2 separate regions of the Homo sapiens genome follow, and region 1 is linked to region 2. A link means that fine-mapping ties the variant in region 2 to the expression of a gene that starts in the linked region. Tissue or cell type: cerebellum. Region 2 holds a variant in brackets; the other region holds the start of a gene. All regions are shown on one strand. Distances are between the middles of the regions.

What was found. PIP is the estimated chance that this variant, and not a neighbour inherited with it, causes the effect.
Region 1: NOD2 starts here. The variant in region 2 is fine-mapped to the expression of NOD2 in cerebellum (GTEx, PIP 0.98).

What each region holds. Positions count from the first base shown.
Region 1 is chr16:50,688,824-50,696,928 of GRCh38, forward strand. It overlaps NOD2 (nucleotide binding oligomerization domain containing 2), which reads left to right and starts at 4,783. Exons shown (of 12, transcript NM_001370466.1): 1 at 4,783-4,839. RefSeq lists a silencer at 4,503-5,012 and enhancers at 5,383-5,432, 5,673-5,752, 7,657-7,706.
Region 2 is chr16:50,376,973-50,385,077 of GRCh38, forward strand. No RefSeq gene overlaps it. Among named protein-coding and RNA genes, the nearest start is that of BRD7, 12 kb to the left of the region's middle. The variant A/C (reference allele first, on the strand shown) is at 4,128.

The DNA of each region.
Region 1 (8,105 bases), 310 kb after region 2:
TTTAAATTTAGCCTTATATTCTTTCTACACAAAGCATTTGGCAGCCCAACTGTTTTTCATTGAGATATAATTCACATACCATAAAACTCACCCTTTTAAGGTGTGTAATTCACTGGTTTTTAGTCCATTCACAAGGTTGTGTAACCATCACCATGATCTAATTCCGGAATATTTTCATCATGCAAAAACAAAACAAAACAAAACAAAACAAAAACCAAACCTCATGCCCACTAGCAGTCACTCCTCATTCCTCCCTCCTCTCAGTTCCTGGCAACCAACAAATCTACTTTCTGTCTTCATGGGTTTGCCTATTCCGGACATTGCATGTAAACGGACTTACACAATAGATGTCATTTTGTGACTGGCTTCTTTCACTTAGCATAATGTTTTCAAGGTTCATTTATGTTGTAGCATTTATCAGTACTTTGTTTTTTTCACAGCTGAATAATATTCCATTGCACAGATAGATCACATTTTCTTTATCCATTCATCAGCTGAGGGACATTTAGTTTGCTTCCACTTTTTCCTCTTATGAATAATGTTGCTATGAACATTTGTGTACAAGCATTTGTGTGCATATATGCTTCAATTCTGTTGAGTATACCTAGGAGTAGAATTGCTGGATCATATGGTAACACCATGTTTAACTTTATGAAGAACCCACAAACTATTTTCCACAGTGGCTTCACCACTTTACGCTCTAACCACCAATGTATGAGGCTTCCAGTTTCTCCACATTATTTCCAGCACTTGTTTTCTGTCCTTTGGACTAAGGGCACCTTTGTGAGTGTAAAGTGGTATCTTATGGTGGCTTTGATTCACATTTCCCTAACAATTAATGATGTTGAGCGTCTTTTCATGTGCTTGTTGGCTACTTACATACGTTCTCTGAACATTTTCAAATCCTTTGCTCATTTAAAAAGTTGTTTGTTATTGAGTTTCAGGAGTCCTTTATATATTCTGGATATGAGTCGTGACTATTTTCTCCCATTCCGTTGGTTGTCTTTTTACTTTCTTGATCATGTCTTTCAAAGCACAAAAGCTTGGAATTTTGATAAAGTCCAACTTATCTATTTTTTTCTTTGGTTGTTTGTGCTTTAGGTGTCAAATCTGAGAAATCATTGCTTCATCCAAGGTCACAAAGATTTTCACCTATGTTTTCTTCTAAGATTTTTATATTTTAAATCTTGCATTTGGGACTTTGATCCATTTTGGGTTAATTTTTGTATAAGGCCTGAAGGAGGAATCCAAATTCAGTTCTTTTGCATGTGGACATCTAGTTTTCCCAGCACCATTTGTTAAAAAGACCACTTTTTTCCCCCTGAATCATCTTGGCATCCTCGTTCAAAAAAGAGTCTACTTTATAAATTTAGCCTTATATATTCTAGGCAGCTTTCTATCTGATAAACATACTTATAGCATCTTTAAAAAATAAATATCTATTGAAATATGACAAGCATAAAGGAAAATATAAATATCATGTGTTTAACTTGGTCAGTTTCACAATGTATTTGCATCAATGCAACCACTATTCAGAGTAAAAATAGGAGATTACTGGCACCCCAGAAGTCCCCTTCACTCCTCCCCTAGTCACTACCTCCAACTTTCTCCCCAGTGGTAGCCTCTATCTTGGCTCCTACCTGTAATGCAGTTTTGCCTGCTTTTGAACTTTATAGAAAGGATACCATTCCGTATGCACGCTCTTGCACTCAGCCTGTTTCACCCAACATTATGTCTGTGAGGCTGCAGTTCTCGTGGGGGTACAGTGATTCATTTATTTTCATTGGTTATTAGAACCACAGCATTATTTTTAGTATATTCACTCAACAAAGATTTATTGCATGCCAGGTCCTGTTCTAGGCCTTGGGAGAAGGCAAGGGACAAAGCAAAAATTCCCTGTTCCCTTGGAGCTCATGCTGTCTTGGGTGAGAGACCAACAACAAAGACAATAAATAAGTAGAATACATAATGTGTTGTGTGCAGATAAGCGCTATGGAGAAAAATACAAAATAAAGCAGGAGAGAAGGGATTGGAGGGTGTTGCAGCTGTACACCGAATAGTTAGGGAAGGCCTTGCCGAGAAAGTCATATGGAAGCAAAGACCCAAAGGAGAGGAAGGAGGGAGCCAGGTAGATTTCTAAAGAAAGAGCATTCCAGGCACAGCAAAGGCAAAGGCCTGAGTGTAACTGCAGGTTTGGCATATTTGAGGAACAGCCAGGAGGCCAGTGTAGCTGGAGCAGAGTGAGTAAGATGAGAGTGTAAGAGGTGGGCAGAGAGGGTGCCAGAGGCCAAACAGCAATTGTAAGGACCTTGGCTTTTACTTTGGGATGGGAGCCATCAACAGAAGAGTTTCAGCAGAGGAGTGATAGAATTTGACTTAAAACAGCAACAACGACAACAACAGCAAAACCAACAGACTCACTCTGGCTGCTGGATTGAAGAAGGGCTGTAGATGGAGGCGTGGAGAATGGCCAGGAACTCCTGCTATCACCCAGGTGAGAGATGATGGAGATGTGGACCCAGGTGGTAATGGTGCATATGGCAAAAATGGGCTGCAGCTTGGAAATATTTGAAGGCCAAGCTGAAAAATTTGCTCCCAGATTGGATAGTGGGGCTGAGAGAAGATGGGTCGGGTTAAGTGTTCTAGGTTCAGATGTTCTGTCAGTTTTCTTAATTAATTTTCTGTTACTGGGCATTAGGGAGGTTTCTAGCTTCTCACTGCTGTAGGCAAGATGGTGGTGAACATCCTTGTAGATGGTTCTGTGCGCTGCCCAGAATGAATTTTCTAGGGTAGATTCAGTCCTTCTAATGCAGCATTTTCCAACCTTGGCTGACTGTGCACCACCTGCACAGGTATTTACTTGAAAGCGGTATGGGGTAGTGGTTAGAGCATTCATCTGTGCCAGAGGCCTGGGGCAAATCCCCATCTCTGGTGCCAGAGGAAAGGGGGCATCTCGAGGCTGGGGAGGCCCCTGGCAGGAGTGAGAAGTCCTGAGGAGCCCGGGCTTCAGGTCTCAGAGGGGGCCACTGTTTTTTGAGTACCTTCCTCTCTGTGGGACTCAGTTTCCCCATCTTCACCATGCCAGTGAGTGGGTGGGTGTAAGTGAGCGAGTCTGCCTGGAGGATCCTACTGCTGCTCTCTGCACCTCTTAGGGGAATCTCCTGCCTCCTCCTTCTCCCTTGGTGGGCGTGAGATCAAAGTTCAAATGTGTACCTCAGTTTCTGCATCTATAAGTTAGAGGCAATAATAGTCAATACCCTAGAGGTGGAAGTAACTGAGTTACTGTCTGTAAAGACTAGCACATGGTAAACACTTTCTAGATGCCAGTTATTTTCGTTATTTTTAAAAATTGACTTCACATTTTTTAAAACAACCAAATATGAGTTTCAAAAGGAACATTTACATTAACATGTTAAATGGAAAACCGGTGTCATTTGCTCCGGAGAACAGAAGAATGTAAAATAAAATATATTTAATGGAAACAAAAACAATGCTATTAAAGCTAATTAGATAGTTTCAGAGCCAAGTAATCTAGGCAGTGCTAGAAAGGTACTCAAACCCTATTAGTACTAAACTGAGAAATAAACTCCATTCAACATAAACGGAAAAACTGAAAGGAAAATGAAAAAAAAGAACCTTAAATGACCAGTCCACTCTTACCTAACATGTAACCTGTCACACTCTGGAAAAGTTTTCCTAGTTTTGGCTGTGTGTGCGTGTGTGTGTGTGTGTGTGTTGGGAAGTGAGGCGTGTGTTGGGAAGCGATGTGTGTGTTGGGAAGCGATGTGTGTGTGTTGGGAAGTGGGGTGTGTGTATATTGGGAAGCATGTTTGTGTGTGTTGGGAAGCGGTGTGTGTGTTGGGAAGTGGTGTGTGTGGGGTGTGGTGTGTGTGTGTTGGGAAGTGGTGTGTGTGTGGGGTGTGTGTATGTGCACGTGTGTGTTGGGAAGCAGTGTGTGTGGGGTGTGTGTGTGTTGGGAAAGCAGGGAGTGTAGTGTGTGTTTGTGTTGGAAAGTGGTGTGTGTGTGGGGTGTGTGTGTGTGTGCACGTGTGTGTTGGGAAGCGGTGTGTGTGGGGTGTATGTGTTGGGAAAGCAGGGTGTGTGTGTGTTGGGAAGTGGTGTGTGTGTGAGTGTTGGGAAGCAGGGTGTGTGTGTTGGAAGTAGGGGGTGTATGTGTATCGGGAAGCATGTTTGTGGTGGGGGGAAGCAGGGCGTGTGTGTGTGTGTATGTGAGTGTTGGGAAGCAAGGTATGTGTGTTGGGGGAAGCGAGGGCTGTGTGTGTATTGGGAAGCATGTTTGTGTGTGGGGGGAAGCGAGGGCTGTGTGTGTGTATTGGGAAACATGTTTGCGTGTGGGGGGGAAGCAGGGCGTGTGTGTGTGTTGCGAAGCGGTGTGTGTGTGGTGTGTGTGTGTGCGCGTGTGTGCTGGGAAGCGGTGTGTGTGGTGTGTGGTGTGTGTGTGTGTGTATGTGTATGTGTTGGGAAGCGGGTTGTTCCGAGGACTCCCCGATTCCCTCCTGGTTGAAACGTGGCCCAGAAAGAGAGGCACACTGGCTAGGGCACACAGCCAGGGCCGTCCAGCCCCGCAGGAAGCCCCGGTCCTGCCCTGTCCCAGGTAAGCCTGGCCAGCCCTGGAGCCGGCGCTGCGGGGCTGCGGGGCTGCGGGGCTGCGGGGCCACGGGACAGGAGCGGGTGCTGCGGTCCCGGCAGAGCAGGGGCGGGGTCCGGGCGGGGGCGGAGCCGAGCGCCCGCGCACCCGGAGCCGCAGCCCGAGCCGGAGCCGGAGCCGGGAGTCGTGGCCCGGAGTGGGCCTTGGAGTCGGCGCGCAGGCGGCTCGCGGTGAGTGCTGTGCCCAGCGCCTGGGGGTGGGCTGGGGGGAGACTGTGGGCGCCGAGGGTCCCACCCCCGGGACTTGAACACTTGGCTTCTGAGCCGTCCTGGCCGCAGGGCTTGGGCAAGGGTTGCCTCGGTTTCTCCTGGGGGAGTCCCAGAATGTAGATGGGAAGTGAGACGGAAAGGGGGCATCTCGAGGTTGGGGAGGCCCCTGGGCCACTCTTTTGATTTCCTTCCTCTCTGTGGGACTCAGTTTCCCCAGCTTCACCATGCCAGTGAGTGGGTGGGTATAAGTGAGAGAGTCTGCCTGGAGGATCCTGCTGCTGCTCTCTGTACCTCTTATGGGAATCTCCTGCCTCCTCCTTCTCCCTTGTTGGGTGTGAGATCTAAGTTCAAATCCATCCCTTCCCAGACAGCCCACACCAGGACCTGCGAGGCCACATCCCCCAGCTGTTTGCTCTCCTATGCTTCTCAGGTTGATGGAGCAGCCATCTGGTCCTGCTTTCATTCCAACAAACTGAAAAGCCCTCCACCCCAATCCCCCTGGGGAGGACCTCCTGAAGCTGCATGAGGGCTGGGGGCTGGACCCCTGCTTCTGAGTTTGCTCTTTCTGAGCCTCTCCTGCCATGGCCTTGGTTTCCCCATGGGCTGTGACCTAGCCTCCTCCAGGGTCCTTGTTCTACAGAGGGGAAACACCTGCCCTGTCACCCTCCCCTGACCCCTTAGTGAAAAAGACCAGAGTGACATCCCCACCACCTGTACTTGCCTGTCCCGATCACTCAGCCATGGGGCTGCTGGGGCCCCTGAGTTTGTTGGCTGCTCAAGGCCCCTTTGCCTCGCTGCACCCTGGGATCTGAGGCTGGAAGCATCCTCATCCAGCCCACCTCCCTCCTACCCAGTGCAGAGCCCCTCTGTGACACATGCCCAGTGGTGGGGAGCTTATTACTGATGAGGTGGCTTTTTAGTGCCTTGCAGCTCTTGTTTCCTTTAGCTAAAATCTGTGGCTTACAGATTCTACACCTTGGTTCCATGTCTGTCTCCCGGAGCCATGCAGAGCAAGTCAGTTCTTTCATTCTTTCCAGCAGTCATCATTCATGCACTGGATGAGACACGAGACAGAGCAGTAGGAAAATCAGACAAAACCCCCTGCCCTCATGGAGTGCACACTCTAGAAAGGAATGGACAGCAATGAAATAAGTAAATACATGGCGTAGCAGGTGGCGGGAAGTACTACGAGTAAAACAAAGCTGGGAAGCAGGATGGGGTGCTGGGGCTGGGTATTGCATTGTATATAGCACAACCAGGGAAGGCTTCCCCAAGACCACGATAGCTGGGCAAAGTCATAAGGAATTGAGGGGTGAGCCACATGAGTATCTGGGGGGCTGGGAGGCTTTGGTTTTCACTCTGAGCATGATGGGAGCACGGGTTTGGAACAGAGGAGTCACCTGCTTTGACTTGGGGTCTGGCAGGCCCATCTAGCTGTGGGGTGGAGAATGGATCATGGGGGGGGTGGGGTAAGGGCAGAAGGAGAGCCCGTTGAGCGGATCATTGCTGTCATTCTCGGGAGAGACCATGGTGTCTTGCCCATGGCCCAGAGGTGGTTAAAAAAAAGAAAACCAGACATTCAGATTTGGGATATATTTCAAAGGCCGTGTCGATAGGGTTTGGGGTGCAAGAGAAAGGTAGAGTCAAAGATGATTCTGAGTGTTTGGCTCGAGCTTCTGGAGGTTTGAAGCTGCCATGAACTGAAATGGGAGTTGCTTAGCGGAGAGATCAAGAGTTTGGTTTTGTGCTTGTGGAGTTTGAGCTGCCCATTAGGCATCAATGATGAGTAAGCAGTTGGGAAAAGTTAAGGGCGGAGGTTGGAGTTGAAAATAAAACTTTGGGCATCATCACCATATAACTGGTATTTAAAGCCACAAGAGCAGGTGGGCTCATCTAGGGATGGAGTGATATGGAGAAGAGAAGGGGTCTAACCATTGAGTGCTGGGGCCCCCAGTGTTAGGAACCAGCCAAGAAGACAGAAAGAGTGAAAATCAGAGAGTTGGGGTGTCCTGGAGGAAATGAAGAAAATGCCCCAAAGAGGAAGGAGGGAACAAATATGACCAATGCCCCTGGCAGAGCAAGCAGGCTGAGGGCTGAGGATTGAGCAATGGGAGGTCACTGGTGACAGTTTCACTGGAGCTGGATGGGGAACTAGAGGGAATGGGAGGGGATGGGAGGACTTGGGGACAGCAGTACAGGCAACAGACAAGGGGGCCTGCTGTAAAGGGAGCAGATAAATGGGATTGGAGCCAAATGAAGAAGGGGAGTGTCAAGAGAGTGCTTTACTTTTACAATGGAGAATTAGAGTGCATTGTGCACTGGTGGGGGGATTTGATCTCTTAGGGAGAGAACAGTGTTAGGGAGGGAGAATGCAGGATAGCTGGGGGAGGGTGGGGGGCTTGGCCCCAGCAGAGACTCAGGACACTTGGGAAGTTGAGCTTCCCTGGGCTTCCCCTCCTCTCCTGTCTGCAAGGGGTCAGTGGGCTGAGATTTCAGCACTTAAGCAAAGCATTTGCTCTTGGCCCCAGAGAAACCGGGCTGGCTGTGGTCTCAGGAAGGAAGGAGGTGTCCAGGCTCAGGCCTGGGCCTGGGTTTCAGGGAGGGCCCACGTGGGTCGCCCCTTGACCCTCTCTTTCAGCAAGGAAGTGATCCTTTCTCTACATGGGCCTCACCTTGGGGAGGACAATGGTGTCTTTGAAGTTGTAGTAACTGAAGTAGAGATCAAAAGGCAATGCAGATAGACTGACAGATTTCGCCTGAAGAGGGGAAGCCCGACCAGGTAATAAAGGAGTAAGAGGAAGGATGTTAAGGACAATTTTAGGAAACAGATAATGAGTGAATATTTTTTCTCTCTCTTTCCCAATTTAAACTGAAGCAGGAGAAACTGAAGCTAGACATAATGATTAACTTCCCAAGCTGGTGAGCTTCCTGAGCTGGTTAGTGAGAACAGCACTAAGGCCAGGTTCTCCTCCCCAGATGTTTAAGATGAGACAGGACAATGCCTGCTCAGAGACAGGGCCTGGCTGAATTGGCCCTCAGGATTCTCTCTGCTCTGAGGTTTCTGGAAGAAGGCCAGGGCAGAGGTGTGGTGATGTAGCTGCTGGGAGGACAGAGCTCCGAGTCACGTGGCTTGGGCGGGCCTCCCCTTCCTGGTGTCCACAGAAGCCCAACGTCACTAGCTGGGGTGTGTATGGCTCACACGTAGGCCAGGCTGCCCTAGGCTTGGT
Region 2 (8,105 bases):
TATTAAAAAAGAACAGTGATAGAATGCTAGAACTTATTCCTTCTATCTAGTAATTTTGTATTCATTAACCAACTTTTTTTTGTGTTTGTTTGTTTTTTGTTTTTGTTTTTCCTGTGAAGCTTTTATTTTGGGCAGAGGGCAGGGAGCTCAGTCCTTCCTGGCAGCTGCTTTCTTCATGGCCGCCAGGACGTGGCTCAGCTCCTCTCTCTTCGTCTTGGCATAGATGTGTGTTAAGCAACCTCTTTCTATCTGCCTTCCCTATTCTTCCCAGCCTCCAGTTACTACCCTACTTCCTGCTCTAGCCTACCCTCTACTTCCATGAGATCAACTCCTTTAGCTTCCACATATGAGTGAGGGCAAAGGATTTAGCCTTTAATCCTGCAGTATTTCTCTTTCTGTGCCTGGCTTATTTCACTTAATGTCGTGTCTTCCAGGTCACCCATGTTATTTCAAACAACAGGATTTCCTTCTTTTTTTAAGGCTGAGTAGTATTCCACTGTGTATTTGCTTTATCCATTCGTCTGCTGATGGATATTTAGCTAGATAGGAGGAATACATTTTAGTGTTCTTTGGCACTGTAGGGTGACTATAGTTAATAATAATTTATTGTATATTTCAAATAGCTAGAAAAGAAGATTTTGAATGTTTTCAACACAAAGAAATAATAAATGTGTAAGGTGATGGATGTGCTAATTACTCTGATTTGATCATTACACATTGCATATATGTATCAAAATATCACTCTGTACCCCATAAATATGTATAATTATTATGTATCAATTATAAATAATTTTTAAAAAGTGATTGAAAACCTCCCACACATGCAAATATATAATAAAATTTTATACATTGGAAATGAATAACACATTGACATTTGGGTCTTCATTGATTGTAAAAAGTAAATGTTAAGAACTTTTTTTTTCTTTTTTTTTTTTTTAAGATGGAGTCTCACTCTGTCTCCTAGGCTGGAGTACAGTGGCATGATCTTGGCTCACTGCAACCTCCGCCTCCCAGGTTCAAGTGAGTCTCCTGCCTCAGCCTCCCGAGTAGCTGGGTTTACAGGCATGCACCACCACACCCAGCTAATTCTTGTATTTTCAGTAGCGACAGGGTTTCCCCATGTTGGCCAGGCTGGTCTCGAACTCCTGACCTTAGGTGATCCACCTGCCTTGGCCTCCTGAAGTGCTAGGACTACAGACGTGAGCCACTGTGCCCAGCCAAATGTTAAGAACTTTTAACGTAAAAGATAAAACACATTTGCACTAACAAGCTACTGCTTTTATTTCTCACACATAGGCATTCTGCTTAAAACTTCATTTGAAACAAGAAGCTGCTGAAAATCTTTGAAAACCACTCAGTGATAGGACTTCCAGGGGCCCTTCCACGGCTCTGTAATTCGGTTAGATAAAACATTATAATGATCAGATGTTTTTATTTTTAAAATACACATCTTTTAGCAGACCATAAAGCCACACACAGATTAGTTGAGCTTGTTGTGTGGCTGGATAAAGTCAGCTGGAACTTGATTTAGGGGAAGAACACTGAACTGGAGATCACAAAGCCTGGTTCTCATTCTTGCATTGCTTGGCCTCCATGTGACAGTCAGAAACCCATCCCTAATGAGGTTGAGCTTCAGGTGTGGCTATATCCAGGTGCTCAAATGATGTCCCCAAGATTCAGGCTTTCTCTCTCTCTGGTCTACTTCCTTCTGCCCTGGTCCCATCCTCAGACAGGCTCCATTGGCCTCTAGAAGCTCCCAGATGATATCCTCATAGATCCCAGTCCAGAAAAAAAGGGAATGTGCCTTTCCCCAGTGGCCCATCAAAAGTCACAGGGCTATGTGATTGGACTGGTTTATATCATGTACCCACCTAGAGCCTATGACCATGAAGGGGTGGGATGTGGGTGGAGGGTGGTCAAGGTGGTGGCAGAATTCAGGGACAAGTGAATCCTAGACCATGGGTCTTCTAACCCAGGAGCTTGGGAGGGAGACGAGTGCCACCTAAACCACATGGCCTAAGTAAGTTGGGATCCCTTAGAAAAATTAGGGTACTGTGACCAGAGGATTGGAGAATGGATGCTGTACCCAAAGTAACCAAGCATTAAACAAAACAAAACAAAACAAAACAAAACAAAACAAACACCTGTTTCTAAACTCAGTTTCTCTACCTGCCTTGAGAATGAGCAGGTTGTGAGGGCCCAATGAGAGGAGGAAGTAAATGATGAGCACTGTTACCTGTTACTTGGAGCCCTATTACTGAGGGGAGCCCCGAGCCCAATTACTCAGAGCCCTGTTACTTGGCGCTGACAGGAGCCCCGAGGCACCTTGCTGCTAACAAACATAACACGCTTCACAAAATGTTCACCCTGTCCCCCATGAGACTGGTCACTGATAAAGAACTGGTAGAAAGGTTCTTTCCTACAAATCCAATTCCAGTCGGCTTGGCTGATGCTTGGCCTGCTCCTCAGAGAGGCAAACATGCCCATTTGCTGGGGAAATGCAACCCAGGGGCGTTTTCTCCTCCTCTCTCTACTGTGATCTTGCCTTTCAGAGCCAGTAGGGGTTCAGACTTGGAGTTGCTGACATTGTCAGCCCCGGAAGAAAAGTTGTGAGGCTCAGCCAGATCTATTTATGCCAGATTTTACAACATCATTGAATTATTTGCACTCAGAACTGCTGATGTTCTGTTGTTATTGTTGTTTAAGTCTACACATAGGCATTTTGGAAGGCACCAATGAATGGGCATCTCTTTATAGTTTCTGAGGCAGAAAAAGGAAAAACTTTTTTCTCCCCTTTATTTAGGAGAAAAGTGAGTGGAGTGGGGAATACAGCCTTCTCCTTCCTGCCTGCCTGTCCCTCTTTCACCTGGGGTAAAATCTGCTTCTGAAAGCCTCCCCAGAGCCCGCTATGAGGAAGGAATAGCCCCTCATCTGTGCACCCTGGCTATTGACTCAGCAAGAGCTGCCATATTTCCTGGCTTCCACTCTGCTCCGCCATAAATCCACTTTCCCCACCACAGCCAGAGTGACTTTGAAATACACAGATTTCCGGGCCAGGGGCAGTGGCTCACACCTGTAATCCCAGCACTTTGGGAGGCCAAGGTAGGAGGACCAGGAGTTTGAGACCAACCTGGGCAAGATAGTGAGAACCCCATCTCTGTTAAAAACAAAACACATGGATTTTTCTGTGGGTGGTGGTACGTTACAAAAATAAAAACAAAAACATAGATTATAGATTGGATTAGGCCACATCATCGTCCTGTTCATAACCCTTTGGGGGGTCTCCCATCTCAGATCAAGCCCAAGCTTTTTTCCTAAGCCTACAAGGCTCAGTGTAACCTGACCTCGTGCTCTTCTCTGACCCCGATTTCTGCCACTGCCTACTTCTACCCACTAATCTCCAGACATAATTTGCCTAATCTTAGTCCCTTGAACATGCCACACTCTTCCTCCATGCAGGCCTTTCACACATGCTATTCCCTTATTCTGGAATGCTGTTCCCACACTCTTCATATGGCTGGCCTCTTCTCATCTCTCACCACCTCAGAAAGGCAACCCTAAACTGCTCCAACAAGTCCCCTTTTAGTTTCTGTCTTTATTTATATATATATTTTGAGATGGAGTTTTGCTTTTGTCGCCCAGGCTGGAGTTCAGGTGCGAGATCTCAGATCACTGCAACCTCCACTTCCTAGTTTCAAGGGATTCTCCTGCCCCAGCCTCCCGAGTAGCTGAGATTACAGGTGCTCACCACCACACCCAGCTAATTTTTTGTGTTTTTGGTAGAGACGGGGTTTCGCCATGTTGGCCAGGCTGGTCTTGAACTCCTGACCTCAGGTTATCCACCTGCCTCGGCCTCCCAGAGTGCTGGGATTACAGGCGTGAGCCACTGCACCCGGACCTCTTTTAGTTTCTCTTATAGCACCCTGTGGTTTTTCTGTTTCTGATAAAACACATCACATTTGCAATTCCGTATTTATTTGTCTATTGTCTGCCTTCCCATAAGACTGAGAACTTCCTGAGGGCAAGAGCTGAGTCTATTCTGTTTTGTTCACTGGCACTTGACATGTACCTAATACATTTTTGTTGCCCAAATGATTAGACGGTTGAAGTCCTCTCTTGTGGAAGGC[A/C]GGACTTCCTTCTGTGTTCTTCCTTCTGGCAGTGACTTATTTCTCCTCCCAGGAGGGGATTGGAGAGAGGAGGTTTTGTCATGCTTCCCTCTGTCCCCCTCAAGGCACTCAACATGGTATTTGGCCCACCATGGGAGCCCAGTGGAGGATGATGAATGAATTCACATTAAATATGTTCTTCCTCTTCCCCCCAACTGCACAGCCAGCTACTCCTGGGAGAGGCATAAATAGTGACCTACAGGCCGGCTGCAGTGGCCCACACCTGTAATCCCAGCACTTTGGGAGGCCTAGGTTGGTGGATTACTGGAGGCCGGGAGTTGGAGATCAGCCTGGCCAACACGGGGAAACTCTGTCTCTACTAAAAATACAAAAATTAGCCAGGCATGGTGGCACATGCCTGTAATCCCAGCTTCTTGGGACGCTGAGGCACAAGAATTGCTTGAACCCTGGAGGTGGGGGTCTCAGTGAGCCAAGATTGTGCCACTGTGCTCCAGTCTGGGCAACAGAGCAAGACCGCCTCAAACAAAAATAAGTGACCTACACCATGAGACTTTGGAGTTGTCAAGCCTTTGCAAAATCTCAAACTCTCTCTTCTACTGATGTGAGTACTGTAGTGCCTGAGAGTCCATTACAACAGAGCAAGGGCAAGGTCTAAGAATCATCTTCCAAGGTCAGCACACCTGGAAGGGGTATTGCCTGAACTGAGCCTGGTAATTTCCTCCTGGGATGGGGAGGGTGGGGAGGGTGGAGAACACAGTGACAGCGCCCCCTGCCCCAGGCTTTCACTTCACCAGATATCCATTAAGCACAGTGATTGTTAGGGTCCACAGGGACTTCAGATACAAACAAGACACAGCCCCTAACCTCAGGAGGCTCAGGGTTTGGTGGAATAGACGCGTGACTTGCCCCCTTTCTGCCGTATGACACTTTGGGCTCGTTACTTGAAAGCCTTGGCTTCCTCATCTGTAAAATGGGGTTATAAATGTACCAATCTCATTGGTGATAATTCATTGAGTTGATGCATAAAAATGCTTAGGACAGGGCCAGGCTCAATAAGGGTGAGTAGTCAGTGTTATTATCTGCCATGCCTCAGGCAAGGTACAGAGTTTCCCCAAGGCTACTTGACCTCTTCCTGTTTACCCTGCCTCCTGGCCAGCTGCCCTCTGGTGGTAACTGTGCAGAGTGGTCGCCTGCCTCTGGCACCTGTCTGATCTGCCCCGGTCCTGCTGACCCCTCCTGTGGGCCTTTTGGTTGTCTGGACTCTTGGTATGTCCCAGGCCTTCCCTTTTTGCTAGGTTTCCAAGGCTGCTCTTCTGCGTCAGCAGGTTTCTCAGGCTTTTCAGACCCAAGTGACCATCTTGGGACATAGGCAGAGAGAAGCCTTGATGTTACTAGTTATTTCTGCCCATTGGGCACCAAATAAACACTTTCTCTAGCAACAGCCTCTTGACTTCCACTTAGAGAGCCTCCTCTCCCCACATGACCTAAGCCTGCCAATGAGAGTGTCACAGCCGCGAGGGCCAGTGAGGATTGGTTCAGGGGTGAGCATGTGACCCAGGCCTGCCAGTGAGAGTATCACAGCTGCCAGGACCAATGATTGGTTCAGAGGTGGGCCTGTGACTGGAATCTGGTTAATGAGAATATCATAGCCCCTGGCTTGGTGATTGGTACAGAGGTGGGCAGGGACTGAGGCTTGGCTTTGGTGGGACCTTTCCATGAAAAGCTTGCTGAGCCAGTGGTATGTCAGTCTGGTGCTTTTGGGGCTTGAGAGGAGGCCCTGCCTGAGAATAAAGCTAATGGTGGAGAAAGCAGAGCCAAGAGCTAGTGGCCTGGTGACAGTAATTGAGTCTCTGGATCCAGCTGAGCCTGAAGTTCATCAACCTCTTACACTTTTCAATCCAAGGGTTGAATAAATTCCCCCTCTGAGTTTTGTGTACTTTGAACTGGATTTCTAGCCCTTGCAACTGAAAGAACATAGGCTGACTTGTGTGTGCATGGACACACACACACACACACACACACACACACACACACACACACACTTCATTCAGTGCCTACTGAGGAGTCCCTCTGCTTAGGGAACTGAGCACTGCCTGTTCCCAGAGCATACAGAGGTGACCAGGACAGTTCCTGACCTCAGGAGTCCCAGGAATGGGGCAACAAGTCCGACTTCTTGCTCAGATACTTTTAAGTGTGGCGGGCCCATTCTCACCAGGGCCAGCTACGTCATTTGTAGGGCTGAGTGCAAAATGAACACGTGGGGTCCTTTGTTCAAAATTATTAAGAATTTCAAGGTAGGAACTCAGAGCATTAATCCAAGTGTGAACCCCTATGTTCATGAGGGAACATATACATGAGGAAACTATCACACAAACCATTATCAAATAGGTCTAATTTAAGGTATTCTGGGGGACAAAGGCTTGGCTCCTTCAAAATAGAATCCTTGGTAGGGACCCAGGTTTGAGTAGTGCTCACCATGGCAGTAGCCTTGAGGGGAGCTGGGAATGATTGGGTGACCATACGATCTGCCTGTGGTCACCAAGGAAGGCTGTTTTGCCTGGAAGGGAAGAAAGCTCCTGGGAACAGAAATCTCAAGACCAGGCATATGGGTGGGTGGGAGCAGAGGGAGGTGGAGTTGGTTGGGATCCTTGTTTTGAAGTGGGAGGCAAACAAAGATGGGCGAGGTCCATGTTTGGTAAAAAGATGGACCAGGAGTCACAAAAGTGTCAGGGAGACCTGGTGGTCTCCTGGTTCTGCAACCAGGCAGACCTGGGGTTGAGTTCCACTTTGGCTGTTTAGTAGCTTAGCGACCTTGGGAAAGTCACTTGACCTCTCTGAGTGCAGTTTCACGGAATGGAAAATAGCAGTGATATTACCCCCAGCAGGTTTGTAGTGAGTACCTAATGGGATAGTGTCTATAAAAAAATCCTTTATAGGCTGGGCAGGAAATCGAGACCATCCTGGCTAACATGGTGAAACCCCGTCTCTACTAAAAATACAAAAAATTAGCTGGGCATGTTGGCATGCACCTGTAGTCCCAGCTACTCGGGAGGCTGAGGCAGAGAATTGCTTGAACCTGGGAGGCAAAGGTTGCAGTGAGTCGAGATCGCGCCACTGCACTCCAGCCTGGGCGACAGAGTGAGACTCCATCTCAAGAAAGAAAAAAAAAATCCTTTATAAGCTATGAAATATGACCAAAATCCATCAGTTCTAAAACTCATCTTTTTTACATTTCATATCTCTAAAATCGGGATAAATCTTATTATCCAAGGTGTGACATATTTAATTGGCAACTTTTCTTTTTCCTTGGTGGCTCATGAAATAATTTGTGTGTGTCACGATCAGTGGCATCTCATTAACAGATCTGCTGAAATGATCGTTGAAACAGCAGTCGTTGGCTTTTCCATCTCCACTGCCACCCTTGCCTGTGTTTCCAGAGAACAGAAATTAGACCTTTTCATCTGTGTCCTCTCGGAGCCTGACATAATGTCTGGCACAGGTCAGTGCTCAATTAATGCTTTAAACCAAAGTTTAAAGTGACTAGCTAAAGGGTTTTGCTGGAAGGGCTTTTGACAAGCTAAACCCAACCCTCTCACCTTCTGATTAATTGCAACTTGGGGCTGAGGCGTGGTCATTTGTGTGTCTTGTTTTCCTGGCCACCCAACTGATGCCTCTTTGTCTTATTTCTGAGAGTTGCTATGGTTCATGCTCTTCGTTTCTATAAGGTACACAGGGAACACACTTACCCCCTCATTCTTCCTGCCCCCTCCACCACTCTTAAGACTGACTCAATTAGCGTGTCACATCCCTCTGGCCTCAGTGATTGGTCCAGGGATGAACATATGACCCAATCAGAACCTTTGAGATACTATGAGATTTTTTTTTGCAGGATGTAGCAGCCCCTGACTGGGCCCCATGCATAGCCTCTTGGTATTTGCCGTTTCCATGCACACGGGCTGAACTTCCAATTGCCCGTCT